Regions from separate parts of the Homo sapiens genome. Here region 2 is linked to region 1. Evidence: fine-mapped expression QTL. A gene starts in region 1. The other region holds a variant in brackets. All regions are shown on one strand. Distances are between the middles of the regions.

Region 1 (16,369 bases):
CCAACTTAAAGCATTTTTGTGAGGTTTACATGTGAATGGAGCTTGAACCCTGCCTGGAAGAAGAAACTCAGTGATGAGCTTTTCCTTTTGAAATCTTCCAGAGTGATGTGGGTTGAGTTTCAAAGTATATTTCAAATGATGAAAATAAATTTTCAAATAACCAAGTTTTATATAAGCAATAACTGTTTTCGTTACTTCAAAGCAAACAGGATACAAATTCATTATTTTTTAATACCCTGAATAGGAAAGAAAGACACTTTCCTGTATTATTATTCTATCTTTTAAATTGAAGATGAGTTCAGGAAACAATTTCCCCATGATTTCCAAGGTTATGTTAATTAAACATTCAATAAAAACATGCTAACAGAGTGTTTAGCAAAGATGGTTCTGAAAGTGGGAAAATGCCTTCCAAAGACAAAGAGGAGTCAAAACATTCTAATGATGTCACAGCACTCCTCCTTGTCCTCAGCAACGTTTTCTTTTGCTTCCATTCCCAAGTTGAACCTCTCTTTCCCTTACTTTTCCTTTTTACCCACTGCCTAAAACCTAATTACAGACTAGGGTTGATGTTTAAGTTAGATAAACAGAAAAAAGTCACAACTGCATCTTGATTTACCTCTTGATCACCTAATGTTCAATAATGTAGAGAATTTATTTGATACTAGGATAAAAATCTTGCTCTTCGACCTGTCTTCAGGGCCTAGTATAATGCCAGGCACATGGGAGGGATTCAACAAAAAGTTATTGAATCTAAGGGTGACATACATCTGGCATGCACTGATATGACTAGGTATGTAAAATATTGGTACTGTTCTGTATATATTGTTATATATCTTTATTGATATAGTTCTGCATAAACAGCTACTGCCCCACGGACCCTCCAGTGCCCCTCTTGCTTTCCTGGCCCCTTACCTGGGACACTCCTGTTCCTTGAGTCAGTAGCTTCTGACAGATCAGGGGTTTCTAGACCTCACTCAAGAGTTCTGGCTGCCTTTAGCTCTAGGTGACCAGCATCTGTACCATTCTAGCTGTGATGTATTTTTAATATCATCTTTACTATAATGAGTGTTAGTTTAGCATTATCCACTAGCCCTGATGTAACAAAATGGGGGAAAAGTAGTGGTCTGAAGAGTATAAAAGGAGGAGAAGTGAAAACAGGGAAGGCAGGAGAGGTAGGGAAGGTAGAAAAGAAGCAGGAGGAAAACCTGGTATAAAAGATCACCACCTGCAGGAATTTGATTCATACAATCACTTTTCTCATTTGCTATCCATTGTCCAAACCATCTTCCCAGAATGCTACAGAAAGCTTTTTGAAAAGTATAGGGTACCTGTCTAGAACCAGAGTTGTAATTACTGAGTTTACTATGCTGATACCATTGCCTGGAAAAATATTATGCCAAATATTTCCCTTCTTTTGCCCTTTGTGTTGGCTTACTTTGGGTAAAATAACATTAGTCAGATTCTTATCCAACCCAGGTGAAATCCTCGTACAAAATACTACCAGGGAGTGTCCAAATTATTTCATTGTACTGGGATTCCGTTGAATTAAATGTTGTTAAAAATCTAGTATTGTGAATCTTTTGGTTACACGGAGATTTCTGTTTTGTCAAAATGCTATTACACTCTGTAATTTAGAAAGCATTAAAGAACCATTGCTGAATGTTTGGACTGCTTTTGTTTGTACTAGGGCTGTGTTTTGCAAACTGTGCCCTGCTACACTCTAAAAAATGTGGGAGTGGGTTTTGATGGTCAAAAATGTTTGAGAAATACAATGCATGTTAGCCTATTAATGGGTCTGAGGTTTAAGCCCAAGATTTCTTGAACATCTCTCTGTCTCTCTTTTTTTTTTTTTCATGGAACACTTCATATGGGATACCAAGTCTGATAAATGCAAATGTTGGATCAGAGTATTCATTTCTGCATTTATCGAGGACCTGCCATGTGTTTGGAAATGGGTCAGGCTGACAAAACAAAGAAAAATAAAGCATAGTACTTGCCGCTGAAAGGCTAGCAGAGGAGATGCAATGCAAAGGATATTACAGAGTTGTCTTGTTTTGTTTTTTTAATATGGGAAAACAGCAGACAAAGCAACTGAGCATGGGAGGATGGGGGTGAGGGCTATGTCTAGGAAAACTTCCCCAGGGAGAAAGTCTCACCGTAAGAATATATCTGTGCAAGTATCAGGCACAAGAGATTTACAAAAAACAAACAAAAAACCCAGCAGGGAGAAAAGGACCCTCTCACATATCCTAGCCACACAAATGCCTTCTACCTCAGTGTATTGGATATATCAACATGTCTCCCTTATGACTGCCAGTTCTCATTTCAGATAGTTTCATGGAAGGTGAGTCGTGGCCATAAAGATAATCTGCATTTTTTTCTTTAAAACACACACATGCACACGTTCATAATTTGGGTCTCAATTGGACATCTGCTTAGATTTTAGCTCTCTTTCCATAGCTGGACAGGGATTTAAGAAGTATGCCTTGGCTGTAAACTTGTTTTTTCTTGTATTCAACATGCACAGGGGCATGACTTTTTAACTAGTCATTCATCGGATGGGGAGTGGGAATGGATTGGAATCCTTGATGTGGTTCCAAACATTGCTGGCTTTTTCAGCCTTAAAACCAACAGCCCAGAGACATTTGACGGTCTTTGATGTGTTCTATACTGAACACACTAGGTGTGCAGCAACACCATTACAAAGGAAGGGAAATGGAACTGGTGTTTCTCTCAAGTCTCTCTCTCTCTCTCTCTCTCTCTCTCTGTCTCTCTCCTTTTAAACATAAATGGTGTGCCCTGCACTCTGCTAACAAATTTATAAATATTATTTTGTTTAATTTTTACAGTACCATATGAGCTATACATTACAATATTTTTACTATTTTTACTGGTATGCAAATGGAGGGACAAAGATTTTGGAAATTTAATGAAGGTAAGTGTCAGAGAGGAGAGTAAAAATGAGATGCACTTCATTCCAAAGCCTGAATACATTTTCCACTGCACTCACTAAAATGCCAGAAAAAGGATTACTGACACGTGTCTTGTACCACTCTAAAATAACACTATTGCATTCTAATTTAGTGTGCTAGCTTAATGACAAGAGTCCTTTACTTTAAGCAGGATGCCCTAGCACTTTCTTTTCCTGATGGAAGTACCTGGCCATTGTTCAAAATGTGTCAAAACAGAGTCCATCATTTATTTACTTTTCTCCTTTTATCTAATAAATGCATTCCTTGAAGGAATAAGTCCAATTTCGAGTAAAGAATGGATGGCTGGGATTTAGGGTGCTATTCAGAACTCTTCAGCAGCTGACCTGCTATCTTTGAGAAAGACCAATGTTTTCTTTACCTTTTGTTTTCTCTAAGTCCTTTCTCTCTCTCTCTTCTTAAAATGCAGATTCTGATTTAGTAGGTCTGGGGTATCATCTAGGGTTTTGCATTTTAAATGGTCTTGCTGATGCTGATCCTCTATGGAGTCTTACTGAGCAGTAAGACCCTAGTAGTAGTTCCAATTCTATATCTCTACCACAAAGCACTTTAGAGCAGCCCCTCCCAGAATCCTGTCAGATAGATCCTTTCCATACTCCATCTCACCACTCAGCTAAAGCCTAAACCCACACAATGAGGAAGCCATCACCAGGTTGACAGGTAAGAGGGAGTAAACTGACTTTTTTCCTTAGAATAAAACTATTAGTGATGGGGGGTTGGTATTATATAGTCCTCTATCTACTTAACATGTTGTGCGTCTCTATAAATTGTAAGGTGGGTTACAAATAATGAGTATGAATAATTTATCTCTTTACATTAGAGCAAACTTAAAGTTGTTAAAAAACATTGCTTTCACTTTCTTTCAAGAGAGGAGAAAGAGATAAAATCAGAGTTAGCAAGAACTAAGCATTGTACTATAACAATCTAATAATTGTTTGGAAGCCCGTGTAGATATATCCATATCATCCTAGTGTGTTGGAGTTGAGAACCACCACTCTTCCTCATAGAGACCTCTGAAATCCTTTGATTCTTCAAAATATGGATGATTCAAAGATGAACAAGGCCATTGATAAGGAAGACTTATTTCTGAGCCAGAGATTAACTTTCTGTATGTTAACAGCTCATGAGGGATTTTTTTTTTTAAGCAGCTAGTGTTGTTGCCTGTATTTTCAATTAAGACAAGCTTCATGACGGTTCCTAAAATGAGGGCTGAATGGGCAAGGTTGAAAAATTCTGGAAACCGATTTAGCATTCAATAAATTTATGCATACCTAAAGACAACTGTACAATCCAATACTATGTCATTTCATTTTTAAGGGAAAACTATGGCTTTCTCTAAATGTTCTTATAAAAAATCATACCAGGAATAAAACAGAATATGGCTCATATTTTCATATTCAGTTTTTTCAATAATTTAAATATTTCTTTTCCTACTTCTACTTTACAGAAGTTAGGTGAAATAAAATGTGTGTTTGACTAAACGTTTAAAGAAAATAATACTACCAGGCAAAATAACATTCTAAACTTAGCATGGAATAAAGATACAATGACGTAATATTTTCAGCTTGTTCCTGTTTTACCTACAATATTTATTTTGAAAAGCATGACACTGTCTCTTTTAGAAAAATTAATTTTCACCTTTCTACATGTACCAAAAATGCTTCCTTCTCACCTCGCTCTTCACAGTGAGAACTGTATTATTCAAAAGTAGCAGGCATGAGATTGTAGCTACAAAAAAAAAAAAGGCTACAAATGGAAGATAATCCATTTAAATGCTTTAACGTGCTAAAGGTTATATAAGGATAAATGGGGAATCACAAATATTTTTAAAATAATTTCAATATTTCATTTACCGTTGTTATATATTCTTATTTCAACTTTTATTCTTAATTATGAAACATTTCAAAATGATGCCAGATATTCATACACCCACCATCTAGTTTGAACAGATAATAACATTTGCATAGATATTTATAGTGTTGTCTTTTTAGCAAGTTTTTCTACGTAAAGAACTATAAAATACTTTTTAGCAAGTTTTCTGTATATAAACTTTTTATATATAAAGTTTTTCTATAACATGTCTACTATAAAGAAGACATTAAAATATTTGTCGATGTCATCAGTCAAATCACTTAAACTGAAATTATCTGCTAACTTCCACATAAAAGCTTATTAGAACTTCAAAAAATGCCAGAGAGACCGCTAAGAAATTCTTTCCAATGCTTCTTGCACCACCTCATTGTTCAAAAACAATACTAATAATAATCACCAGAATTTGGGTTTGCTTACATGCAAAAACATTTCTAAATAAGTAAACTAAAAATGAAATGGAAAGCACACTTTGTATACTTTCTGTTAATAATTTATTTTATAATTATTATAAATATTTATTTTGGAAAAAGATTGTTTTGGCATTTCTGTTCCCATTTGTCCTGTACTTCATGTGTGTGGGTGCATTTTATATTTATATTTATATATATATATATACACACACACACATACATATGTATACACACACATACACATATGTATCTTAAATACATATATTTAAACTTTAAATAAAATAAAGATTGTATTCTACTCTCTTCTGAAAGTCCTTGATTACCAGTGGATGTATAAAGACGTGATAACTAATACAGAACAAGTTTTATGGTACAGAAATTATTAATCACTAAAATAATACATTAAGCTTTGTAAGTAATATATTTAGAAATAATTTAAATGCCAGTAGAAACTTTGACTTATTTATTCATTTTAGGGTACAACTAGAAAATGAGTAGTGGTTCATCTTTTACTTGCAGGTAAAGGTTGAGGAGGAAATTCTCACATTCAAGATGATGCTGTCATTATAATGAAGTAAGATGGAACAAAAAGTTGTATGTGAAGTACCCTGGGCAAGCCCCTTTGATAGTTTTAGCTACAGATGCCTGTGTGTTTGCAATGTGGGCCTCTTATGGCTGTATTCTATTAGCTCTGGGTTTACTGTGATATTATGTATATTTGTCTTGGGCCAAACAGCTTGCTTGCCTCAGTTGAAGTCTAAAAGATACTATGGGCTTAAGACACTTTTTGTTTATTTGCTATTTGAGGTGAATTATTCCTTCTTTGCTTCTTTGCTATTCATAATATTATGATATATAATTTTGGCTATGCAATTGTGTAATCTTTTCTATAATATTATTTTGGGCTTCTGTATAAAAGCTTAAAAATATGTTCCACGAATGAGATGCTTATGCTTGTTTATTCAATATTTTTTTCTGTTGGACTTTGGACAAAGTCTTGCCTAGTGGGATTCACATATAAGGAAAGCTTTTTTTTCTTGTTACTCACAGAATTACGATGTTTAAAATAGCTATTTGAGTTCAATGATACTATACTTTCCATAATAAATTTAGAGTACTTTTTTCACTTCAAAGAATGCTTTTGAGTTTTCCATGAATAGGTTTCACTAACTACATTTTTAAAAAGACCTTAGCTCTGAGGTTTATCCTCTTTTACATCTTAAGGTACATTTTTCATGATTTCTAAAATATTTGCTTTTTAAAAATACTAGGACTGTTAATTTTAAAAATTCATTTTTCAAAATTTTCAGAAATTTTAATATTAAGAATCTGTTTAATTTTTTTTATTTCTTGGTCAAGGCAGTCATATGGTTTGAGATTTCTCAGTTCTTTAAAATGGGAGTTCATAAATTCAACCTGTTCTAAGCTAACTGTAGTGATTCCTAGCTGTCGTTTACTTAACACTATTAACCATTAAACACTACTGACATCTCAACTCAAAACATACACTTAGGTATAGGAAATAGTATACAAACATTTTATTTAACCATATCGTATGCAGAAAATTTAAAATTTGAATCTTTCTTATAGTCCTTGGACTCAAATCTTCATGCAAATACAATTTATATAATCAATTATATTTGACTTGTGTTTTTTAAAGTGGCTAAGGAAATGAGTACCAACTTATTAGGGAATATTTGATGAATATTTTTCGTTTTGGTTGAACAAATGACTACGTAGAGTTATATTTACTTCAAAATCAATAAAATACCACTATTAACCTTGCTCTGACGCTCCCACCCCCACCCTTCAACTCGTAGAATATTTTTTGGTGGTAACTAGACTGACCTTTGCCAAAATGTAATTACATTCAGAGAGAAATACAATTTTCCCCTTCAAATCCAGGTGAAAGGCTACCATGCTGGGCTTGCGGAGGGCATAGTTGAGTAGGACAGCCAGAACTTCTGGCTAGGTCATCGGGTCGGATTACCCTGCCATGTACCCCTCAGTATTTACTTCCAGAGATGGGCAACTTACTATAGTCTTCATGTTTAAGGAATTCAAACCCAAATGAAAAGTGTTGTGAAAGCATAAATATCTCTGCTTGTATACTACAGTACTGAATATGAAACCACATATTGCAATAAAAATAACTAACGATGGCCCATGCATTTCACAAGGCGCTCTCATACACCTGAAGGGGCAGTGGAAAGGTTCAGAGCACCCAGGCTGTCCCAAAGAGGGCGGAATCAAATCTGGGCGCAGGTGGGTACCCGGAAAAAATTCTTGGTGGAGATGGCATCTGAGAGAGGCGTCGAAGGACACGGAGGGTTGAGGATAGGAGAGAGGCCACTCCAGATGGAAAAACACCCTCGTTTTCCAAATGCCAGTTATACCACGGGGCCTGTGATAGCCGCCACGTTTCTAGAAGACCCCTAGAAGAGCAGGGGTCCGACCAAGGAAGTACTTCCGCTGTTCAATTTGCTAAGTTTGCATTCGGAGAGTACAAGGGCGAGCTCTGGCTCTTGCAGGTGGACTCCCTCTCCCTTAGCTCTGACTGCGAGAAGCTCCCACCCGCAAAGGGCTACTGTGCCAAAAGCGAGCGTAGTGGCCGCCGCTTCCCCCACAAAATTCCGTCACTCGGGAGCTGCGTTGCAGTGGAGAAACCTGGGTCCCGTCCGGGCCCAAGGGAGGAGGCTCAGCACGGCCGCTCCCGCAGCCCCGTCCAGGCGCCTCTTCCCTCCCCCTCCTTTCCGCGGCGGTCGCGGCGGCGGCTGGAGCGGGAGCCGGGGGCGGCGAGGGGCGGAGCCGGGGCGGAGCCACGGCGCTGGCGGCCCCGGCGGCGGCGGCAGGTGTGGATGGGGCGAAGGTGCGGGAACGTCCACTCCCGCGCGCCCCTCTCGGGGACCAGGGCGGCCTCCCAGGAGGAGCTTGGTGAGCAGCTGCGACCTGTGCATAACTTGGGGCGCCGCCAGGGGCTCGCAGGTTCCACGTCCGGCGCCTGGAGAAGGAAGACGCGCGTCCCCGGCCGCGGCGCCGAAGCCGGCTGGGGGACCGCCTGGTCCCGGGCCAGAGCTGGGAGGCGGTGTTCCGTGAGCCGCCTGGTCTGGGGTGCGGGGGGCGGGAAGCGGCCCCTTCGTGTGCGCTTGGGCGAGGCCGGGCGGCGCTTCTGTCCTCCTACTCGGACCCGCAGGTAAGCTGGGAGAGCCTTGGTCCCGCTGCGCGCTGAGCTGGCTAGGGAGGCGCCCCTCAAGGAGTTGAGGAGGCTTCGGGGCCTGGGCACACGGCAGTGGGCACACGGCAGTCGACACCCGGGTCCGAGGACCGCCGGCGCCCGTTGGCGCCCAAACGAGGATGCGCCGCGGGGTCCGGCGCATCCCGGAGCGCCGGCCGCCCTTGGCTCTTCGCGGAACCGCCGCCTCCTCTTGTCCAAATCTCAGGTCGTCATCCTGGCCCGAAGTCACAGGTTCGCTCTCTGTCCCTAAACCTCGAGGAAGGAGTTGTGTGTGTCCATGAGCGTGTTGGCGGAGAGCGCTTTCATACAGCGATGTTTGAGTTGAGCTCATTTTACCACCTAAAATTACTGTCACTTTAAAACTTAACTAAGCTTTCCCTTCTTAGAAGAGAAATTAGGCTTGTGGTTTACACCCATGGCTAGTAGGATTAAAGTTTGTTTTTGCCCTGTACAGCTGAGAAAATGTTTTGTAAAATCCTGAATTTTCCAACAGTACTTCTAAAAGAGCCTCCGATTCTCCAGCGAGACAATGGCAGTCATTAAAAAAAACACAGCGGAAATGTTCACTTAGAGCGGCTTCACTAGGAGAGAAGTTAAGGAAACCTTAGGCAAAAGTGACCCCTTAATTGACACCTTACAGGACCGTTTTTTTGACCTTGTATTAGTGGTAATAGGACTAAGAATGACAGCTCAAGAACTATACCTGGTTTGGAACTGAGGCTGTGGCCAGACGCCCCTCACTTTCCGGGGACCTCTAGTTTCTGGAATCGGGCCTTTGAACTTCCTTATTGAAATCCTGGCAGCTTTGAAGTGAAATTAGGAAAATGATCCTATTTATTCGCTGGAGTTTATTAACTCTGCATTAAAGTGTTTATCTCCTGGGCCAAAATTGAAACAATATTGTATTTTGCATTTTGTTTTAAATAAATTTTTACCAATTCAGGTAAAAATTGGATTTGAAAATGACAGTTAAGTCTAGGTTTATTTGTTGTCGAGTTTTGTATGAGGGGGCTGACTTTTAAGTTGTTTTTTAAAGTCCAATCCTGGTTATTTTTCATTGTCTTCAGAGGTTAATCTTTAGGTGAGAACTTTATCTTGATTTTAAGGCAAAAAAAGTAAAAAAGGCAGTGATTTAAGTCACCCAAAGAACTATAGTTCCTCCTTTCTCTTTTTTTCCTTAACTTGAGACAGAGCTTCCTGAAAATTGGGCAGCTGCTTTAATCTTATCATATAAAAAATGTTTCAAGTTGAATTTGGGGCCCTAAAATGGAAAATTTTGATTTGTGTTTGTTTTAATAGAATCATTAGACCTTATGGAATTATCAGCTTGGAGTGTTTATTTTCTATTTATACCATATTACTACTTTGTTGTACATGTTAATATTGCTTAGATGATAGGTAAATGTTTAGAGAAACCAGACTTTAATAAAGTACAGAATTATTCATTGGATGAAATTTTATAATTTTTCAGTCTTATAAATTCTGAAAAGTGTATAACAGAGACAAAGTGTTTAACCTATAATGTGGATTGTTGGCCCTTTTTGGAATTTTAAACGAGAAGGGAGGTATGAAATGCTTTATTCTATATTTAAGCATCTTTTTAGAAGTGGAAATAAATTGGAGGATCACTTTTATGTACAGTGTAATGGCTAGATAGCTATTCTAGAAACTACAACAAATGCTTGAGGAAGTAAAATTAGAAGGTAGTATAAAATTGTGTATTATATTTTTACAATTTCAAGGAGATTGCATACTTATAAATTTCATATCCTCAAGTGAAGAGTGTTGAACTGAATAAAATAGAATTTTTCTACATACCATGTTTTTCTCAGATTAAAAAAAATAGTCATCTTGGTTTGCCTAAAAAACTAAGCTGTAGTTAAATTTGGTTGGTACGTATTTGGGATAATTAAAAATACTTTAATTCATGTACTTTAACAGTTCTTTTCTTCAGTAACAGGTTTTTATAAGAAATGTTTTACTTGAAACATTGACATTTAATGACAGATGTCATTATATTTTTCATATAATTGCCACAGTTTTTCTTCATTGTGTGTATCTAGGTAGCTTTGGCATATAAACATCGGGGGGGCTCTAAACAAATTTTAACTGTAAAAAAGCAAGAGATGCAATCCCAGATTATTAACATTTGAGGAATGAAATCCAGCTTTAAGATAAAATGGCTTTTTGAAGACACTTTAAAATACATATAATGATAGGATTCTTAGAGAGTAATGTTTTTGGTAGTTCTTTTAATCATAAAATGAATTAACAAAAGAATTGATGCTTAAGTTTGAACAGCTTCTTGGTTTCACAACTATTTCCTTAGAAATAATCTCCCAAGTGATTCAGAAATTTTTATGGAAGTGAGGAAAAAAAACAGCAACTTTTGTTGGATCTAGGGTAGGTCAATCTTAACTAAGAAACAGCGAAATTTGATCTTTGTGTTATAAACTGTAGTTTCACTGAGGACTTCTTAACTATGTCATCTTTTTAAATACAATTAAGTGTTTAGAAAGTAAGTCAGTTATTTTATTTGTACAATATAAGTGCTTGCTGTATTTATGGATATTGAGGCTTTTTTATCCACATCTTATGTGAGAAGGCAGTCCAGGAAATTATTAAAATAATTTTGGTAAGAGTCTAGATGAAGGGGAAAAATCGATTGTATATATGTGTGCTGGTTTGCAGTATGGAGGGGAGTAAAAAGAGTCTGAGAACAAAACTTACTTTCGGACTTCCTAGAAGTTTCTGCTTTATTATGTAATTGAATTTTTTTGTCAGGATGTAGTTATTGGTTGTACTAAAATACAGCAGACAACAGAAAAAATAAATCTCATTTGAAAATCCTTAATCATGGCTTTATCGAATACACAGCTTACTCTATTTTGTCTAAATACCAGCTTCCAAGCTGTCAGCATTAATTTAGAAGCCAATTTCTAAATTAAATGTGTTATTAAGTAATTTCCATTTAAGAGCAATGTCCAAATAGCACTGATTCTTTAAGTAAAATAATAATTATATTAATAAAAATTATACTTTTGGGCAAATGGCAGGGGAAAAATGCCATTTTTATTGGCCTTGGAAACATTTATGCTAAGCAGTTTGTGGCCCAGTTTCCATTTCTGTGATTGTGCTGCCTCTGACAAAGGATCGACTACTGAGCGGTGAAAGATTGTATAGGGAAAATTAATAAAACCTGCTACGTGGGTTGATCATAGTTCTGCCTGATAAGCCTGAGTCCATATGAATCTGAGCCAGTTAAGAAGTTCTGAGTCTTAATTCCCCACAGCTCTTTCACATTGATTCCTGTGAGTTAGCAGTAGTGAAGGAGTCCCCTTCTCTGCCATTTGCAAAGCCAACTTCATGATCCGCAGCAAATCAAACCCACGAAATGTTTTGGTCTTGTCCAATTCAGCTTTACTTCCTTGCCAGGGGCATAACAGTTGAAGTTAAAAGACTTAGACCCAAATGGGAAAATTAGTGCCATTTGTGTATAGGCAGTAGCCTTGTTCATACTACTTTCAACCTAATTAGAAAGAAATAAAGTATGATTTGATTGTAAGTCCGCCAGGGTAGGTAGCATATAGGGGAGTGTGGCTCAAGAATCTAAGTTTTTCACTTATTTTGAATTATTAAGAGTTTGCGTTATAGTTCTCTTTTTTGTTTTACTTCTATAGAGTGCTTCTACAATTTGGAAGAGGGGAAAAGTACAATAAAATGGCAAATATTAAAGTGACCAAGAAGGCATAGCATTGGTTACAGAAAAGTTCTTTCACTTCTCCTTAGGTAATTCTGTGTTGGATTTTCTTCTTTGTATTTTAAATCTAGGTTCTTTGCTTAGAGGTAATTTTGATTCTGAGGAGGGTAGCAGGAAAGGAAAATGAACTGCATCTAAAAACCAGTGTAATCCGACAACTGACGTCTTATTTCTGCCAAATTTCAGGTGGACTTGGGCCACGTTAGTAAATTGGATATGTATAAAATAAGATAAAGAAATCATCTCAGAAAGTCCTGCTCTAGAAGCTTCTAGTATGTGAGGTGAGACTATTTTAGAGTCCAAGGTTTGAATACAAGCAAAGGATTGATTTCCCCAAAAGTCAAACTGGTACGATCTTACTATCTAAAATAACTTGAGATTTTTGAGTTATAGCACATGTTGAAGTAGAAATTCCAGTCATAAAGTCATTATTGAATGATTATCCTGGGGAGTTTTGCCTCACTGATCAAACCTTTTACTGATTATCTCAACTTCATTAACTAAATAAAAAATTTCATATAAGAAGCAGTGGACTAAAGCACTAAAAGTGTGAGTTCTCTGAAGTAAAATCCACATAAAGTAAATGAAGCCTTAAAAATTAGGATTTAAGTAGCTTTTAACTAGAGTGGTTTTTGAAGTAAAAACTGGTAATATTGTCACTTGACATTTTCTTTTCATATTCTGTGCCGTGACTCAAAACTCATTTCCTTTTTATAGGTGAGAATGGAAGTAGATAAAATTTGAAAACAAATACACAAACCCCAGCTTTTTTGCAGCTGGACTTTAATAATTTTATAACATGGCTGCATGTTTCCTAGCACGTTAACAGTGATAAAATTTTACATTGCTTTTTATGCTTTTGGAATTGGGATTAGGATGATATAACAGAATGAAAACTGCAACATTAATTCACTTTTCAAATGAATATGTTTATGCAAATTAAATGGAGGTCTTGAAAAACAGTAGTTTGAATTGTAATTCAAAGTAAAAATTACAGGTTAATACCTGGACTGATATGTGTTAAGTAGCTTTCTAATTGCTTCTAATAATCGAATAATTAGAATTTTATCATAACTTTTTAATCTCTGGAAATAAATTTCTAGTTTTTATATGAGGAAAAATTTAATGACATATTAATGTTATTAAGTATTAAATAATATAAGCTAAAAGATATTTTCTTTCAATACCCAGAAATGACTGAAAATATTTTTGTAGACAAAAGAAGACTGTATGGAAAGGTAACGGAAAGAGATATAAAAGACTACCCAACTAGATGGTTTTTTGAATAATAAATCTTTAATATAAATTTTATTTTTGCTGCTAAGAGGTTTTCAAATTCTGGAGAAATAGCCATAAATCTTATGAACTGACAAAGATGATCAAAACATTTTAAAGATTCAGCTTCCTTTTAAAATAAATGTATTTATCAATTGGTCAAAGCTAATGTTCTGTATTTCCTTTTGTAAATTAACACACTGTCAAAAGGAAATATAAAAATGGAGAGCTAGTTATAGCCCAGTTAAGAATAATTTAAAAAACAGATTTATTTGAAAAGTAAATTTTCCTTTTGAAGATGTTCGTTATGCTAATCGTAAGTGTTGGTGGCCTTTTTGTTTTGCAAAATTTATTGAAGTAGAAATGATAAGACCACATATTTCAGAATAATGGGCAAGTTACTATGTGTTAGATAGTTCTATTAGCTAAGCTATAAACATAAATTTTACTGGAAATATTAAAATATAAATGGAAATAAATTATTAAAATATAAACAGAGCCACATAATTGACTGTTGTCTACTTTTATTTCAGATCACATCTAAAATACTAACTAGAACTAACACAAAACTGTTTTCTAAAACTGCCAGGGTGTCAGCTTCATCCAAATATTTTGTTCAAAAGTAAATATTAAAATAAAATGCATCCAACTCTTCTGATTGTCAAAGCAGTGATAACAATTATAGCGCTTTCTGTTGATCATTTCCTGGGTTCCATGCTTTACTTATATTACCGCAGATAAGCTTCAAATAACCCTCCCATCTAAGCGCCATGATTGTTCCTATTTTACAGAGAAGAAAACTGGCCTAGTGAGATTAAAGGGGTCAGACAGCTAATAAATGGTGTAGTACTGGGACTCCAATCCAAGTCTTTCCTATTTCTATGTCTCTGCTCTTAATTACTTTGTTATATATCACATTAATTAAGCAGAATATCTGTGGAACTCTTCTTGAAACCTGTTTGGGAGTCATTTGTACAGCATTTTGGATGTCCTCAGCTATAGCACATATTTTAATTTTTATTTTTAGAACTAATTCAAAGTCCTTCATGTCCAAGTCTGGCAAAAGACACAGATGGTATAGGTAGTAATTAATGTTTATGACCAAAAGAGGCAGATAGTGTCTTTAAAGTACTAAATCTGATATTTAAATTTTCTCTGAAGACCATACTAAAGGAACCATATAGATCATTGTTTTTAGAGCCATGGCACTGGAATTGGAATATAAGTATAGTCTTCGAGGCACCTAACCCAAAATTGGTGTTCATTGAACATTTATTAAAACAATGAATGAGACAATGAATAAAAGGATAATATGTCTTTGCCTATGAAAATTATAATATGTGCTTGCAAAGTATAGTAACAAGTGTGGGTAGCTTATCATTAAAAATGATAATTCCCTCTTCATTATTATCACACCTGACCTTTGGCGTGGATATATAGATCTTGTGTGTGGGTATAAAGTCTGTTGAAGTTGTGGACTTGAGACAGAACTGTCAGAGCCAGCCATAATTAAGATGTGTGCTGAAACAAGATTTCATAGAACTAAATTCACAAGAGAAAAAGTAAAAGCCAAAGAATAAGGTGGAAATGTTGCTTTGCTAGTATTAGCAAATAGTATTCACAAATAGTATTAGCAAATAGTATTTGCAAATAGTATTTGCTAGTATCCTACTATTAGAGGAAGGGATCTGGGTTGCCATGCTGAATCTCTAGTGTTTACTCCCATGTGGCTTTGGGTGAGTTGCCTGGGCTATCAGTGTGTAAACTGAGGACCCACTTCAGGGCTGCCTAAGAGTTTTTAAAATCTTCAAGGTCTCCTTGCTAAGTTTCACGTGACTGCTGTTACTGTAACTCTTCTAGGGAACTTATGGGAACTCCACATGCAAGGACACTACCATTCCATACACACACACACATCCATATCCAGGTGAAGCACTACCGGGACCTATGCTTTCCCTTTGGCTCTAGTCTACCTTCCCTCTCAGAGCTTCCCCACTGCTTTCTATCCCTGATGGCAGAGGAAGTTGGAACTAGTTTTTATTTTGTGGTGGTTAATGATCCTGCACTCCTGAATAGGGTAAATGCAAAGGCCCTTTTCAGGGCTCACATTTTGCAGTGTCTGAAATTCAGCATGGGGACACAATAAAAGAACCAAAACAGAGGACTAAGCAGTGAACGGAGTCAGTTTGCAAATGAAACAAAACAGTGATTAAAATGCAAAGAAACAAAAGGAGCTTTAATAGCAAAAACATTGATAACAGGGTATGTTCAAAGGTCAAAGCAAAAAGGTTAAAGACAAAACTAGACAAATTTATATGATAAATTTTATAATGGAAAATGGCTTTTAAATAGTAAAAGTAATTAAAGCTTTAGATTTTTAAAATCAGAATTTTTCTTTTGAGGCTCACCAGAGCAGAGTGGTTATATTCTAGGAAAGCAAAGCTTGTGCATGGGGGGAGAGGTTGAGAGCGGGATGATGTAAACCATCATTCTGGGACACCACCAAAGACAACCAAACCTCAACATTTTGAAAGAGATTCTGAACAAAAGAATATTCTAAAGCAGTTTGAAAAGAGGAAGCCATTGTCTCTTTTTGTGTCTGGAAATGAAAAACAGGGACTACATTTAAATTCATCTGAAACATAAGGTTTCGAAAGAAAAAAAGACAAACAAGTTTGTCATCAGAAATAGAGTTAGTGGAACCTATGGAATTCTAGAAAATGACACTAGTTTATGCATAGTCATGTATGAGAGTGAACAATGAGGAAATGAGCAGATGTTGCTTATCAGTTACCACGGCCTGTTCAATCTAAGCAGTACCTGGGTT
Region 2 (16,369 bases), 67 kb after region 1:
TGTGTGTTAAGATGTTTTTAAGAACCTTTATTCCTGCCCCAAACAGGAGAACTGTTGAACTGTCACCACACAGGATGCTTATCAAAGACACTGACATCTTTCCAGCCTTCTTCACCTGTGCCCCAATTGCTACCTGTTGTTGGGTGTGTGTTACCACTTCCAAGCCATCTTCTCTTGAATTTCAAGAGAAGCCACTCTGAGCAGCAGTCTCTCAGTTTCACGACTTTAGAATGACCTCTTTCATTTTGCATTTATACGTGACCAAAGGTGGCTCAGATTGGGTTTCCCAGCTTCCTAGGTTAGTCAAAGTGAAGTTTGACACCGAGAGATGGGGTCAAGCTAGGGTGCCCTCAGGAAGTTAATCAGGAAGATTAATTGGCCCAATATTTAAGTGTAATTAAGCCCAGAAAAAATTGAAATTGTATCTAAGTACATCTGTCTAACACTCTTCCCTCTTTGTACCCCAGGCACACCAGTTTTAGTCTTTATAATGAGCTTTACAGATCTAATATTACACTTTTAATTAAGATTTTTTTAAGCAGCAATATCTTGTCTTAGTTTTAGCTGATTTATTTAGAAAGTACCTTGTTTGAGATGGCAATTCTTATGTTAGCCCACAAGCGTATTTTTACCTGGCATTCAGATGAACTTGGGTTTCTGGCATAGCATTCTATAGGTCATTTGGATAGCCTCCCATCTGGTCTTTTGATACCACTTGCACCAATCTCAGTATTTCCTGTAACCATTTTAGACCGTAGCCTTCACACATCCTTTTGGTCCTGGCTGTTGACTGTGCCAAGAAAAATGTGTAACCAGGTAGTTAGACTTCGTTGCTCAGCAAACTCATTAATCTCTGGACCAGGTCAGGCACCAGTCTTCATATCTGATTTTTGGTAGTTACACAAAGTAAGCAGAATTGATTTTAGACAACTCCGTCATTTGGTAATTGCTTAGAGCCTTGAGAAATGTAGGCCAGATTAAGAAGGCAAAGGGCAAAGGTTCCAGTTCTTTAATATTATATCGTCTTCTCGTTTATTTTTCTCTTTGCTCTACCAAGGAGTGAAGTCAACTGAGTTCTTCTCAAAACTCAGATTAATGAATTCCAAATGTGACAAAAACCCTGTGAGGTTACAATGACTTCGCTGGTGTTTGTCTCTTTTAATCTTTCAAATATTTCTTCAGGAAAGGAAGAAGTGACAAGTCTAAACTGAAGAAGTTGACATCAGAGGGCCAGTGGAATGGAATCTTAGTTCAGTTCCCACAAAAGGAGGATTTCTTGGTACCAAGAGATAAAATAAATATGAATTGGGGGGCTGGGGCAGGACTTCAAAGGGTCAGAGAATAAATAAATATTAAATTACTAATGTCTTTACTAGGCAATTTATACATGTTATCTTCTTTAGTCCTTATAATTACTCTGCAAGTTAATCATCAGCATTCCTCTTTTACAGAAATGGAGCCTTACTAAAAAGTTAACTCTCTTCCCAAGCACTGTACATTTGGTAGGCTAGATTTCAGAGCCACTATTATCTTAGTGTAAAACACTGACACATCCAGTATGTTGTTTCTTCCAAGAGAAAAACAGAGCATTAATTCCAAGGTAAAGTTGACTTGCTATATTTCCTAAATTATATTGGTAGATCCTTTTCTGTGATGATTTCCACCTAGAATGCCTGTTACCTTTTTTAGGTCAGAAGAGCAGTATTCATTAAGACTTTGCATGCTATTCAGAGAAAAATATGTTCATTGATATCATCTGACCCACCCAGGACCAACCCCCTACACACACACACACACACACACATGCACACACACACACACTCAGACACACACACACCACATCACACCACACCATAACTTTTCCTGAGCCTGGGTCAGGCCTTCTAATCAGCAATATTTCTTTAGTTTCTTGAATATACATGAGAATTTTAGGGTTTTTCTCTATCAGCTATGGAAAAAAGATTTATGTGCCTATGTGTCAAGCAACATGGTAATACTTTCTTACCTGTAGTATCAATTATTGCTTTGTATGAAGTAGGCCTTTCTATGTTGATTTAACAGATGAAGGAATAAACTCAGTTTCCGAAGACTCATGTAGGTTTACCTAGTTGATAAGTTACAGAGCTAGAATTTGAGCCTCTGTCTATTTTGATTCTAAAACTGTTCTTTTCCTTGTGTCATGGCCATTTGTCCCTCTACTCATGGTCCCTCTGTTTGGGGTGACATGCATGCTTTTGTTGTTAGCTGTGGCTTTTTACAGAGCACCATACAATGGAATGCACCATGGAAAACGATAATACCTTACAGTCACATGGAGCTGACTTTTAATTTTATTTACTATCAATTGTCTTTGTTTGTTGTATTTGGCTATCTAATGACCTTTACAGATATTGTATTTTATATCTTGAACATTTGTTTCAAGATTTCATTTATTTTTATACTTAATTTCTTGTATATCTTTGAATACATGGAGCCTATTTATGATAGCAGTTTAATATTTTTGCTAATTCTATCATCTCATTTATTTTCTATTAATTTTTCTCCTGATTATAGTTTATATATTCTTATTTCCTGTGTCTGGTAGTTTTTTTTAATTGAATGCCAGTTATTGTGATTGTATGTTTTTGTGTGACGGATTTTGTTGTATTCCTTTAAACAGGTTGGATTTTGTTTCAGTAGGCAGCTATGGTAATTGTGGATTAGTTTGATTAAAGTCTTGTTTTTATGTTCTTTTAAGACAGATCTGTAGTAGTCTTTACTTTCGGGCTAATTTAGCCCCACATTTAAGTTTTAGCCCTTTTAGGGTCTTTTGCCCTGTGGCTGGTGGGAACTTGAACAATTTTCAGTCTTGAATGTGCGCTTAAGTTGTTTGGCTTAAAGCTCCCCAGCAATTATTCTTTCTTTGGAGGTTGTACTTGCTGGGCCTCATAGGGCTTTACCCAGTGCATGTACACATTAGCATTTACCAAAGACTCAAGGGGACCCTTATAAAAAAATTCTAGAACTCTTTTTCTGGGTAGCTCACTTCTTTTGGGTACTCTGTCTTGCAAATTTCATATGCTTTGGCTTCCTCAGACTTTTATCTCTGTCTCCTGAACTGAGAGAGATTGCTCAGAAAGGGTCCTCCTCCCTGCAACACAGTCTAAAAATTGCCCCCAGGCAAAAAGCCTCATTTGTTTCCCATCTCTCAGGGATCACAGTCCTGGATTGGCTATTCTTCAATGACTGAAAATAGTTGTTTCCTATATTTTGTTTAGTTTTTAAATTGTTTGTAGAGGGAGGGTAATTCTTGACCCTGTCAGTCCCTCATGACCAGAAGTAGAAATCCCAGCTGACCATGTTTGGAAATGTTAACTTTTCTAAATCATAGGTTTCTTTTATTTTCATTTTTAAAATGATCTTATTATCATAAGACCTGCCTCTCAAGAATATTATAAAGATTAGAAATAACATTATATTTATTCTCTCAATAATGCACACAACATTTGGATTTAATATGTCAGTAGCTCAGTTTCCTTATTTGTGCAATGGGGATAATAATAGTACTTCATAAGGTAGTTTTGTGGATTAAATAAATTATTAATAATATTTGTGATTCCTTTAGACAAATGCCTAGCACATAGTAAGAGTATTAAGTGTCAATAAAATAATTTTGGACAGCCAAGGGTGTGTTGTCTACTCCCAGAAATAAAACAATCTCATGGTTAATCAACAGTGAACACACCTAGAGTTAGAGAACATTCAAACTATCTCTTAACTTCTTTTAATGAGATGTTTTTCAGTCCACAGAGATCCATCTCAGATGGTTGTCCAGGGTTTCATATCTCTCATCTCCCCCACTCCATTTTCCCTCTGTCTTAATCTCTCCTCCCTTTTCTGTTCATGTTTTTGGTTCACTCTTGGACACATGATGAAACATTCTCAGAATCATGATGGTCATACTTGCCTACATCTTTTTTAGAGTGTTCATGTACCTTTTAACATTTACCTTTAAAAAGCTTAGGTTTTTAAATTTTGTCACAATGGAGCATCTGTAGGATAAATTTTTCTCTTGATAACTAGGCCACTTCTTGTAACTTTGACGTGTTGTTATGCTAAGAGTCTCTGTTTCTTTACTATATTTTACCGGAGAATCCTGCTGAGGATTAAGAGGGAAAGAAAAGAATTAGATGATGAGGACCAAATACATAAAGCTCTTCAAGAAGTGTCTTATACATAATATATACTCAGTAAGTAATGGCTGTTATTTCGATATCACCATTTGAGTGGACATACAAGTGACACTGTACATCTAACAGTGTGACTTGTGTATTAAATATTACATTGTACGTAAAGTGTTAAGACTAAAGACTAATATTAAGACTTAAACATGAGCAGAGGGTTTGGGGAGAACTACGTTGCCCCTGAATTTGATAATCTATGTACAATTCAAACTTATGTGTTGTAGATCATGGGGTCTAATACTTCTACAGCTCTCTTACCAATATCCTAGAATCCCTTGTTTCATTGTCATTCAGTTGACTCTCACCTGCCAAAGTCCCAACCTTGGATGGACTGTGAATCTTCTCTGCTTATTTAAATCAAGACAAATTGGTGCCTCTATTAATTTAGTTCACCAATCTATGTAAGCAGATACTCAATATTGCTCTCCTGTCTTTGTCAACTCTCCCTCACATTCTTTCTATCACAACCCTAAAATTTGCCCCCTCCCTTCAAGTTTAGAACACCTCTTTCTCCTCTATTGAATAAGTTCATTTATTCATTCAATATTTATGGGATATTTATTGGGTGTCTACTGTATTTTGGGCTGGAATGTAGTGTGCTACACTGTGTGGCTGCACTGTAAGCAAAATACAGAAACGGATAGGACCCTCTGAAGGGAGAGAGAGAAATTAGTCAAATGGTCACAAATCTTATAGACTATAATGATAGCTATGAATGGAGCTATAAGCCCATGTGTAAGAGCATGTCAGCTGGGTGAAGAGGAGTTGAATTGGGAGACAAGACAGGTTTCAAAGCAAAGAAAATAGAATGTGCCAGGGCACATGTTAATCTCATAGATGGTCCATCACGTGCTCTAGTCTTCCACTTCAAGAAAACAAATAGAAACCACCAGAATGAAACACTGAGCTTCCTCTTCTAAACCTGCACTCAAACCTGTGTTGATCCTATTCTTTTCTCCTTCCTGTTACAGACCAAGCCCAACATGAGGCTCTGGTTCCATTTCTTCCCTACTCTACTGGTTTCTTCTAATCAACAGAGAATATTTCTCACTTTAAAAAACAAAACAAGATAAAAAACAAAACTTGCCAAGACTGAACCTCTCACTCCTATTTTCAGTTAATTTTTCTCTTCGATGTAGTGATCAAATTTTTGTGGGCATATCCTATATCATTTTGTTGTTTATTTCCATTTCCTCTTATAAGAATTGAAATCTGGCTTCCACCCTAATACTCCATTGAAAATTCCGTTTGCCAAAGTCACTGATAATGTCCATGTAATTAACTTCAACATATGTTTTCAAGTACTTACTTTTCTTGCCCACTTAGTGGTGTGTGACACTGTTACACAATCCTTTGTTCTTGAAAACTGGTTTTCCTTCTGATCTAGACACTCTTTTTTTTTGAGACGAAGTCTTGCTCTTGTCCCCCAGGCTGCAGTGCGATAGCGCAATCTCGGCTCACTGCAACCTTTGCCTCCTGAGTTCATGCGATTCTCTTGCCTCAGCCTCCTGAGTAGCTGGGATTACAGGCACCCACCACCATGCCTGGCTAATTTTTGTATTTTCAGTAGAGACAGGGTTTCACCATGTTGGCCAGGCTGGTCTCGAACTCCTGACCTCAGGTGATCCACCCGCCTCAGCCTCCTAAAGTGCTGGAATTACAGGTGTGAGCCACTGCACCTGGCCTAGACATTGTTTATTTCACTTTTTGGTCTCCTCTTCTACTCATTGCTTAAATATTGGTGTTTCTTGGGGATTGATCTTGAGCAATTTGTTTGTGTCATTCTGTATACAGAAGGTCAATAACTTTAGAAAAAAAGAGATGCTCGTAATTGATTTTACTCTGGTATACATCTGCATTATAGAATGCTATAACAGGGGTCACCAATCCCCAGGCCACAGTCCGGTACTGCTCCATTGCCTGTTAGGAACCAGGGCCACACAGCAGGAGGTGAGCAGCGGGTGAGTGCGCAAAGCTTCATCTGTATTTACAGCAACTCCCCACTGCTCACATTACCTCTTGAGCTCTGCCTCCTGTCAGATCAGTGGCAGCACTAGATTCTCTCATAGGAGTGCGAACCCTGTTGTGAACTAGGCATAGGAGGGATCTAGGTTGCGTGCTCCCTGTGAGAATCTAGTGCCTGATGATCTGTCACTGTCTCCCATCACCTCCAGATGGGAAATATAGTTTCCCTCCAAATGAGAAAGATAGTTGCAGGAAAGCAAGCTCAGGGCTCCCACTGGTTCTACATTATGGTGAGTTGTATAATTATTTTTAGTATACATTACAATATAATAGTAATAGAAATAAAGTGCACAATAAATGTGATGTGCTTGAATCATCCCGAAACCATTCCCCCACCCTGGTCTATGGAAAAAATTATCTTCCACAAAACAGGTTCCTGGTGCCAAAAAGGTTGGGGACTGCTGTGCTATGTCATTTGCTTATACTCTACTATTTCTCCCCTTTTACCCTACCTAATCCAATCAAACTCCATTCCAGGGATCTTTATCTCTGTTTAACTGAACAGGGCCTGGAGCAATGCTAGGACCATAATAAGCAATCAATAAACATTTCTTGAATGAATTAATAACATGAGGACCAATACATGTCATCTAAGTGCTTCTAGAGTATGTACACACTTGGTTCTTCTTTCTTTGAATTAATTGACATTTGTTGAAAAAGCAGTTAATAGAAAATGGGCTTCATCTTATTTCCAGCTGTGACTGATTAATAGGGGCTACCCTCAGAGCATTTTGAAAGTACTTACCTAGAGCTTGATGGAACAGACTGCCGTTATCTATTAATAATATCATTTTAGCATAAATGATATTTTAATAATAACATAAATAATAACATTTATTATGCATGGCTTACATGCCATGCACTATACTAAACATATTAGGTGGATTATCTCAATTAGATTTCACAACAACTCCAAGAGACACCATTATTATACTTGTCTTAACATTGATGAAACTGAGACACAGAGAAGTTAATAGCTTGCTAAAAACCACACAGCAAGCAAGTAGTAGAGTTGGGGTTTAAACCTATTCTGTTGCACATTAAAGCCCATGTGCTGAGTATCATGTTATACAATTTTCATGAGAAGTGGTGGTCTTTTCCTTTCTACTGTGCTTTTGCCATTCTTGGCCTAAATTATGAAGAGGGAAAGGGAGAACAGTATAGTTGATGATAGTGTACAAAAAGAAGGCTATTCTGCTCTGTTAGACCTCTGTCATCATGTCTCAAATGTGGATTATTTAGTTAAAAAATACAAACACACTTTTTATCCTTTGAAATAATCATGAAAGTTGAAAATACAGGAGAGAGAATCTTATTTTTGAAATAATTTAAGTTGCCAAGCTGATGCACCAATACTGTCAAATACTTTAATGTGTGTTTCCTACCAACAGAGATATTTTCCCTGCATAACCACAACAAAATTCAGAAATTAACATTGTTACGTTAGCACCATATGATACTCAGTGTTCGTATTTAGATTTGTAGTCCCAATAATCCAATAATATTCTTTTTTTTTTTTGAAATGGAGTCTTGTTCTGTCACCCAGGCTGGAGTGCAGTGGCATAATCTCAGTTTACGGCACTCTCCACCTCTCAGGTTCAAGCTATTCTCCTGCCTCAGCCTCCCAAGTAGCTGGGATTACAGGCACCCGTCACCACACCCAGCTAATTTTTGTATTTTTGGTAGAGATGGGGTTACACCATGTTGGCCAGGCTGGTTTCAAACTCCTGACCTCAGGTGATACACCCGCCTCAGCCTCCAAAAGTGCTGGGATTACAGGTGTGAGCCACGGTGCTTGGACCCTATAATATTCCTAGTAGCAAATGGATCCTGTTCAGAATCATGCTATGCATTCAGTTGCTATATTCTTTAGTCTCTTATAGTCTGGAGCAGTTGCTGGGTCTTTGTTGATTTTCATGACCTTGAACGATTACAGGGCAATTGTTTTACAGAATATTTCTCCTCACTCCACTCAAGTTATGACTCCCCACAGCAGCCCCGCTCCACGGATGCTCTAATCACTCTTAGGCTGTGACACCCATGCCAGGTTCTCTCTCCACATAAACAGTCACCTTTGCCTGTCTGAGCTCCAGCAGTGTGGCTTCCTGCCCTTTCCAGCAAAATGCTTACATTGTTTTGTCCATCTATTGTCTTTAGGACTGAATTTTTCAAAAAGGGAAAGGGAAGCAGAGATTAGATATCAATTTAAGATCAATTCCAGCTCCAGAATTCTATGATAGATAAATTAATATGGTCAAATATTTGAAAGTTTATGCTCAGAAAATGGAGTAGAGCTGTGTCGATACCATTGGGAAAAATAACCATATCTGAAATAATAACTGAGGCCAGAGCAAAGGGAGGCGCTGAGTAGCTTGGGATAGGGCTAGATGTGGCACCCTGTGTGTGGCACGCTGGAGAGTCTGGCCAGAGCACAAGATCCCAGAGTGGTCAGAGAAGTTAGAATATGTTTACAGACGCCCCCACCCCCCGACCCCCAGAAAGGGAGAGGAGGTAGTAGATGGCCAGAAAGCAAGGCATGTCCATTAGAGTGGTCAAGGCAAAAAAGGAAAATATAACAATACTAACCAGCAAGTATCTTAATATGGATTAGACAGACTAGTGAGCTAATGTGTTATGGGAACAATACACCTGGTCTGAGTAATGTATTGCTGATCATACATTATCAGACCACTAGATACCATTAATTTGTGATATCTTACCAACAGCAAAGTTTATCCCAGGCTCTAAGTAATTGATATTATGCTGCCATCCTTTGGTTGAATTTAAAATGCCTCGTTTACTAACTGGAACTGTTTTTGTGTGTTTTAAACAGAGGGTATCACAATTTTAATTACATTTTTTAGATTGACAGTAATGATAAATAATTTATGGAGACAAGTGAATAAATAAAACTTGATACTTATGTAATAAATTTAAAAGTCATTGAAAAGCCCATTCTAGCTAAAGATGAACTACCAGTCGTTTGTTTAATTTATTTTAGAGACTTCGTCATACTGACTGATACTTAAGATTTAGCCCTTTTTTCATCATCATGACACTTTCCATTGTCTTTCTCTAAGCAATGTAAGCATGCAGTGAATTTCCTTAATACCATCCTTAGATTCAGACAAGAGTGACCTATGCTCTACTCTAGGTCTTGCCCTTTTGAGAAACCTGAATATCAGACATGATTCAATTTATACAACACATGTGTATGCACACACGGAAGTGCACATACACACACATGCATAGACACACACAACATTTTAAAAAAGCATCTAGTACCCACATCACTTAGGATCTGGTACTCAGTGCTCACATATGGCCCAATAACTCTAAATATACATGCTCATTAGTAATTCCATTTGGTACCCAGGGAGATATTTCTCCACATCTCTTGCTTTCAGTCCCCTACAAAAAATTGACTGTACCTGATGCCATGAAGGAGACGTTGCCTTGGAATGTAGGGGATTTGAGCTGCAGAGGAAAGAGAAGACACATTAATTGCCTAGTAAACCCTTCCTCAAGGACAGCAGGAACGCAATAGATTCTTACAAAATGAAATACCATGTCTCAATAGTCCCCAGTGTCCATTCTCTTGCTTGTCTTTACGTAACAATTAGTGATTCAGCTGTTTGGTGGTCTCTTCACACGGACGCGCATGAAATTTGGTGCCTTGACTCGGAACAGGGGACCTCCCTTGGGAGATCAATCCCCCATCCTCCTGCTCTTTGCTCTGTGAGAAAGATCCACCTACGACCTCAGGTCCTCAGACCAACCAGCCCAAGGAACATCTCACCAATTTCAAATCCGGTAAGCGGCCTCATCTTACTCTCTTCTCCAACCTCTCTCACTGTCCCTCAACCACTTTCTCCTTTCCACTCTTCAATCTCTCCCTTCTCTTAATTTCAATTCCTTTCATTTTCTGGGAGAGACAAAGGAGACACGTTTTATTCATAGACCCAAAACTCCGGCGCCGGTCACGGATTGGGAAGGCAGCCTTCCCTTGGTGTTTAATCATTGCAGGGACGCCTCTCTGATCATTCAGCCATGTTTCAAGGGTGTCAGACCACGCAGGGACGCCTGCCTTGGTCCTTCACCCTTAGCGGCAAGTCCCGCTTTTCTGGGGAAGGGGCAAGTACCTCAACCCCTTCTCTCCTTGTCTCTACCCCTTCTCTGCTTTTCTGGGAGAGGGGCAAATAGCCCTCAACCTCTTCTCTCCTTGTCTCTACCCCTTCTCTGCTTTCCTGGGGCAGGGGCAAGTACCCCTCAACCCCTTCTCCTTCACCCTTAGCGGCGAGTCCCGCTTTCCTAGGGGGCAAGAACCCCCAACCGCTTATTTCCATGCCCCAACCTCTTATCTCTGCGCCCCAACCTCTTATCTCTGCACCCCAATCGCTTATTTCCATGCCCCAACCTCTTATCTCTGCGCCCCAATCCCTTATTTCTGTGCCCCAACCCTTTCTCTGCTTTTCTGGAGGGCAAGAAACCCCCACCCCTTCTCCGTGTCTCTACTCTTTTCTCTGGGCTTGCCTCCTTCACTATGGGCAAGCTTCCACCTTCCATTCCTCCTTCTTCTCCCTTAGCCTGTATTCTTAAGAACTTAAAACCTCTTCAATCCTCACCTGACCTAAAACCTAAATGCCTTATTTTCTTCTGCAATGCCGCTTGACCCCAATACAAACTCGACAGTAGTTCCAAATAGCCAGAAAATGGCACTTTGAATTTTTCCATCCTGCAATATCTAAATAATTCTTGTCGTAAAATAGGCAAACGGTCTGAGGTGCCTGACATCCAGGCATTCTTTTACACATCAGTCCCTTCCTAGTCTCTGCGCCCAGTGCAACTCGTCCCAAATCTTCCTTCTTTCCCTCCCGCCTGTCCCCTCAGTCCCAACCCCAAGCGTCGCTGAGTCTTTCTAATCTTCCTTTTCTACAGACCCATCTGACCTCTCCCCTCCTCGCCAGGCCGAGCTAGGTCCCAATTCTTCCTCAGCCTCCGTTCCTCCACCCTATAATCTTTTTATCGCCTCCCCTCCTCACACCTGGTCGGGCTTACAGTTTCGTTCCGTGACTAGCCCTCCCCCACCTGCCCAGCAATTTACTCTTAAAAAGGTGGCTGGAGCCAAAGGCATAATCAAGGTTAATGCTCCTTTTTCTTTATCCCAAATCAGATAGCGTTTAGGCTCTTTTTCATCAAATATAAAAACCCAGCCCAGTTCATGGCTCGTTCGGCAGCAACCCTGAGATGCTTTACAGCCCTAGACCCTAAAAGGTCAAAAGGCCATCTTATTCTCAATATACATTTTATTACCCAATCTGCTCCCAACATTAAATAAAACTCCAAAAATTAAATTCCGGCCCTCAAATCCCACAACAGGATTTAATTAACCTTGCCTTCAAGGTGTACAATAATAGAAAAAAGTTTCAACTCCTTGCCTCCACTGTGAGACAAACCCCAGCCACATCTCCAGCACACAAGAACTTCCAAACGCCTGAACCGCAGCGGCCAGGCATTCCTCCAGAACCTCCTCCCCCAGGAGTTTGCTGCAAGTGCCAGAAATGTGGCCACCAGGCCAAGGAATGCCTGCAGCCCAAGATTCCTCCTAAGCCGTGTCCCATCTGTGCGGGACCCCACTGGCAATCGGACTGTCCAACTCACCTGGCAGCCACTCCCAGAGTCCCTGGAACTCTGGCCCAAGGCTCTCTGACTGCTTCCCAGATCTTCTTGGCTTAGCGGCTGAAGACTGACGCTGCCCGATCGCCTCGGAAGCCCCCTAGACCATCACGGACGCCAAGCTTCGGGTAACTCTCACAGTGGAAGGTAAGTCTGTCCCCTTCTTAATCAATACGGAGGCTACCCACTCCATATTACCTTCTTTTCAAGGGCCTGTTTCCCTTGCC[C/T]CCATAACTGTTGTGGGTATTGACGGCCAGGCTTCTAAACCTCTTAAAACTCCCCAACTCTGGTGCCAACTTAGACAATACTCTTTTAAGCACTCCTTTTTAGTTATCCCCACCTGCCCAGTTCCCTTATTAGGCTGAGACATTTTAACCAAATTATCTGCTTCCCTGACTATTCCTGGACCATAGCCGCATCTCATTGATGCCCTTCTTCCCAATCCAAAGCCTCTTTTGCGTCCTCCTCTTGTATTCCCCCATCTTAACCCACAAGTATAAGATACCTCTACTCCCTCCTTGGCGACCGATCATGCACCCCTTACCATCTCATTAAAACCTAATCACCCTTACCTGGCTCAATGCCAATATCCCATCCCACAGCATGCTTTGAAAGGATTAAAGCCTGTTAACACTTGCCTTCACTTAGACTGACCCTGACACCCATTAGGCTCAGCAAATTACCTGGGCTATACTGCCGCAAGGCTTCACAGACAGCCCCCATTACTTCAGTCAAGCCCAAATTTCATCCTCATCTGTTAGTCATACTCCTATTCACCGTTCTCAACTACTCATACATGCCCTGCTCTTGTTTACACTGCTGGTTTACACTGTTTCTCCAAGCCATCGCAGCTGATATCTCCTGGTGCTATCCCCAAACTGCCACTCTAAACTCTTGAAGTAAATAAATAATCTTTGCTGGCAGGACTATGCTGAATCTCCTTAGGCACTCTCTAATTAGATGTCCTAGGTCCTCCCAATTCTTAGTCCTTTTATACCTGTTTTTCTCCTTCTCTTATTCCATTTAGTTTGTCACTTCATCCAAGACCGTATCCAGGCCAACCAATCATTCTATATGACAGATGTTTCTTCTAACATCCCCACAATATCACCCCTTACCACAAGACCTCCCTTCAGCTTAATCTCTCCCACTCTAGGTTCCCACGCCGCCCCAATCCCGCTTGAAGCAGCCCTGAGAAACATCGCCCATTCTCTGTCCATATCACCCGCCAGAAATTTTTGCCGCCCCAACACTTCACTATTTTGTTTTATTTTTCTTATTAATATAAGAAGGCAGGAATGTCAGGCCTCTGAGCCCAAGCCAAGCCATTGCATCCCCTGTGACTTGCACGTATACGCCCAGATGGCCTGAAGTAACTGAAGAATCACAAAAGAAGTGAACATGCCCTGCCCCACCTTAACTGATGACATTCCACCACAAAAGAAGTGTAAATGGCCAGTCCTTGCCTTAAGTGATGACATTACCTTGTGAAAGTCCTTTTCCTGGCTCATCCTGGCTCGAAAAGCACCCCCACTGAGCACCTTGCGAACCCCCACTCCTGCCCACCAGAGAACAAACCCCCTTTGAGTGTAATTTTCCTTTACCTACCCAAATCCTATAAAACGGCCCCACCCTTATCTCCCTTCCCTGACTCTTTTCGGACTCAGCCCGCCTGCACCCAGGTGAAATAAAGAGCCATGTTGCTCAAAAAAAAAAAAAAAAAAAAAAAACAATTAGTGATTCAGGAGGGACTCATAAATTATGATGGGCATTGGCAATAGTTGTACATGGAGGCTGGAAAATATTTCTCAATATTAATCAATTTATTTTACTCTTAAATCTTAATTTATGTTGGTCTAGACATATGCTGGAAGTGTGATACATTTTTTTTTACATTGTTATCCATATGAACCTTGTAAGATAGAATTGCATGTAATTTTACTTTTATAAACATTTTTAATGCTTAATACGTTTTTAATTAAAAGGTTAAGTATATGCTTTATTTAAATACTGTCAGTTTAAATTTGATATTAATTATACCACACATGTTGTCTTTTAATTTTGATAGATAACATTGTATAAAATATTTCATGTTTTTTGAAAATATAAAATATGTAATATTTTTAACATTTACTTTAGATTACATTTTTTGTGAAAACATTTTCAAAATTTCTAGACTTTGAATACAATTATATTTTGTTTTTAATCTTTTAGATCAGGGTTCAGCAAACCTTTCTGTAAAAGACCAGAGAGTAAATATTTCAGGTTTTGTAGACCATATAGTTCCTATCACAACTATTCAGCCTTGCTATTGTAGCATGAAAGTGCCATAACAAATGAGCATCATTGTGTTCTAGTAAAACTTTATTTACAAAAGTAGGTGGTAGGCCAGATGCAGTGGCTCACGCCTGTAATTCCAGCACTTTGGGAGGCCAAGGCGGGCAGATCACGAGGTCAGGAGATCGAGACCATCCTGGCTAAAACAGTGAAACCCCATCTCTACTAAAAATATAAAAAAATTAGCTGGGTGTGGTGGTGGGCGCCTGTAGTCCCAGCTACTTGGGAGGCTGAGGCAGGAGAATGGCGTGAACCTGGGAGGCGGAGCTTGCGGTTAGCCGAGATCAAGCCACTGCACGCCAGCCTGGGCGACAAAGCAAAACTCCATCTCAAAAAAAAAAAAAAAAAAAAAAAAAAAGAAGAAGCAGGAGGTGGTAGGACAGATTTGGTCCATAGGCTATAGTTTGCCAACTCCCACTTTAGATTATTTATAATGAGAGAACCTCCACTTCTAGTCATGAGGGACAACTAGATTTATCATCTCACTTTGAACAACTAGAATACTGAGTAAAATATACGAAAAATAGTTTTTAGACATTGGATAACAGACAGCGTAAGATAATGATCCTTGAGAGAAAGGAAAGAAATACAGTAAGCCCTACAATTGCTCCAGCTTAATGCTGGATAGAAAATTGGCAGGCTGCAGCACAAAGAGGAGGAAACTCCAACAGACCAGTGTTCTCAATGAGTTGATATGTCATAGTTTGGAGTTCAGGGAGGCAGAAAAATATTGGAGAAGATATTGCTGCACAGAGGGAAATTGGGGAAGAATGAATGAGAGCTACGAAGATCTGTAAAAATGTCTTCAGGAGTCTTTAGCTAATGTGTGGTTTGTGTATGTGCGTAAAGGAGTTACCCGATTAGGAAAAGAACACCCAGAAAGGAGCAGGCAGTACAGGCTGTCCCCAGTGCTAACACAGGGCTGGGGATATTTCATGTTTCCAGCAGCCAGAGGGCAAAAATCTCCAAATTCAGAGAGCATTAAGTAGAGTCCTCAAAAGACTATATTCTTGGTTACAAAGGCATTGCCCTAAATTATAAAGTCTGCTTCACTCATGCTAACAAAGCCAATGTCAGAGGAATCCAATTCCAAGTAACTCAACTATACCCTAAAACAAAGTTCAACTGTACGTAAAGGACTTAACAAATCCAACTCCCATTAAAGTAAAATTTACAATGCTCAGAATCCACTCAAAAGTTACCAAACATGCAAAAGACATAGGAAAATAGGACCCATAAAGAGTAGAAATATAATTGACAAGACCAGACTCAGAAATGACACAAATGATAGAATTATCAGAAAAGGAGATTAAACACCTACTATAAATGTACTCCATATGCTCAAGAATGTAGAGGAAAAGATGAATGTGATGAGGAAAGAAATGTAGATATGAAAAAGAAACAAATTCAACTTCTACAAATGAAAGTATAATATCTGAAGTGATAAATATACTGGATGGGATTAACTGTAGATAAGATACTACCAAAGGAAATACCAATAAGCTTGAAGGCAGACTTAGAAACTATTAGAAATAAGACAGAGGAAAAGACTAAAAAGTAAATGAGCAAAGCTTCAGGGAACTGTGTGATAATATTAAACAGTCAAACACATCTAGAGATGTAGTCCCAGAAGAGATTAGGAAGGAGGGAATGGTAATAGAAAAATGTTAAAAGAAATAAAGTCTGAAACTTTTTCAAATTTGATGAAAATGATAAAATCATGGATTCACAAAGCTCAAAAAAAACCTTGTAAAAGAGACAAGAAGAAAATCACACCAAAGCACATTATTATCAAATTTCTAGAAAATAGTGATAGTAAATCTTAAAAGCTGCCAGAGAAAAAGAAGAAACATTATGCACAGAGGAATAAAATTAAGAATGACCACAGTCTTCTCTTCAGAAATTATGCAAGCCAGAATAGAGTAGAGCAACATCTTTACAGTTCTTAAAGAAAAAATATATCAACTTAGAATTCTATACCCAGCAAAAATATATTTCAAAAAGAAGACACAATACTTTTTCAGACAGACAAAAGCCAAGAGAGTTTATTTCCAGGGGACGTGTAATATAAGAAATATTAGTGAAAGTAGTGTAAAGAATGAGAGAGA

Evidence for each region. PIP is the estimated chance that this variant, and not a neighbour inherited with it, causes the effect.
Region 2: its variant is fine-mapped to the expression of MIR31HG in fibroblasts (GTEx, PIP 0.98).

The regions. Positions count from the first base shown.
Region 1 is chr9:21,551,585-21,567,953 of GRCh38, reverse strand. MIR31HG (MIR31 host gene) reads left to right here and starts at 8,156. Exons shown (of 3, transcript NR_152879.1): 1 at 8,156-8,465. RefSeq lists an enhancer at 8,595-9,381.
Region 2 is chr9:21,484,591-21,500,959 of GRCh38, reverse strand. The region is part of intron 1 of MIR31HG (MIR31 host gene); the gene reads left to right. Among named protein-coding and RNA genes, the nearest start is that of IFNE, 10 kb to the right of the region's middle. RefSeq lists an enhancer at 13,091-13,680. The variant C/T (reference allele first, on the strand shown) is at 12,152.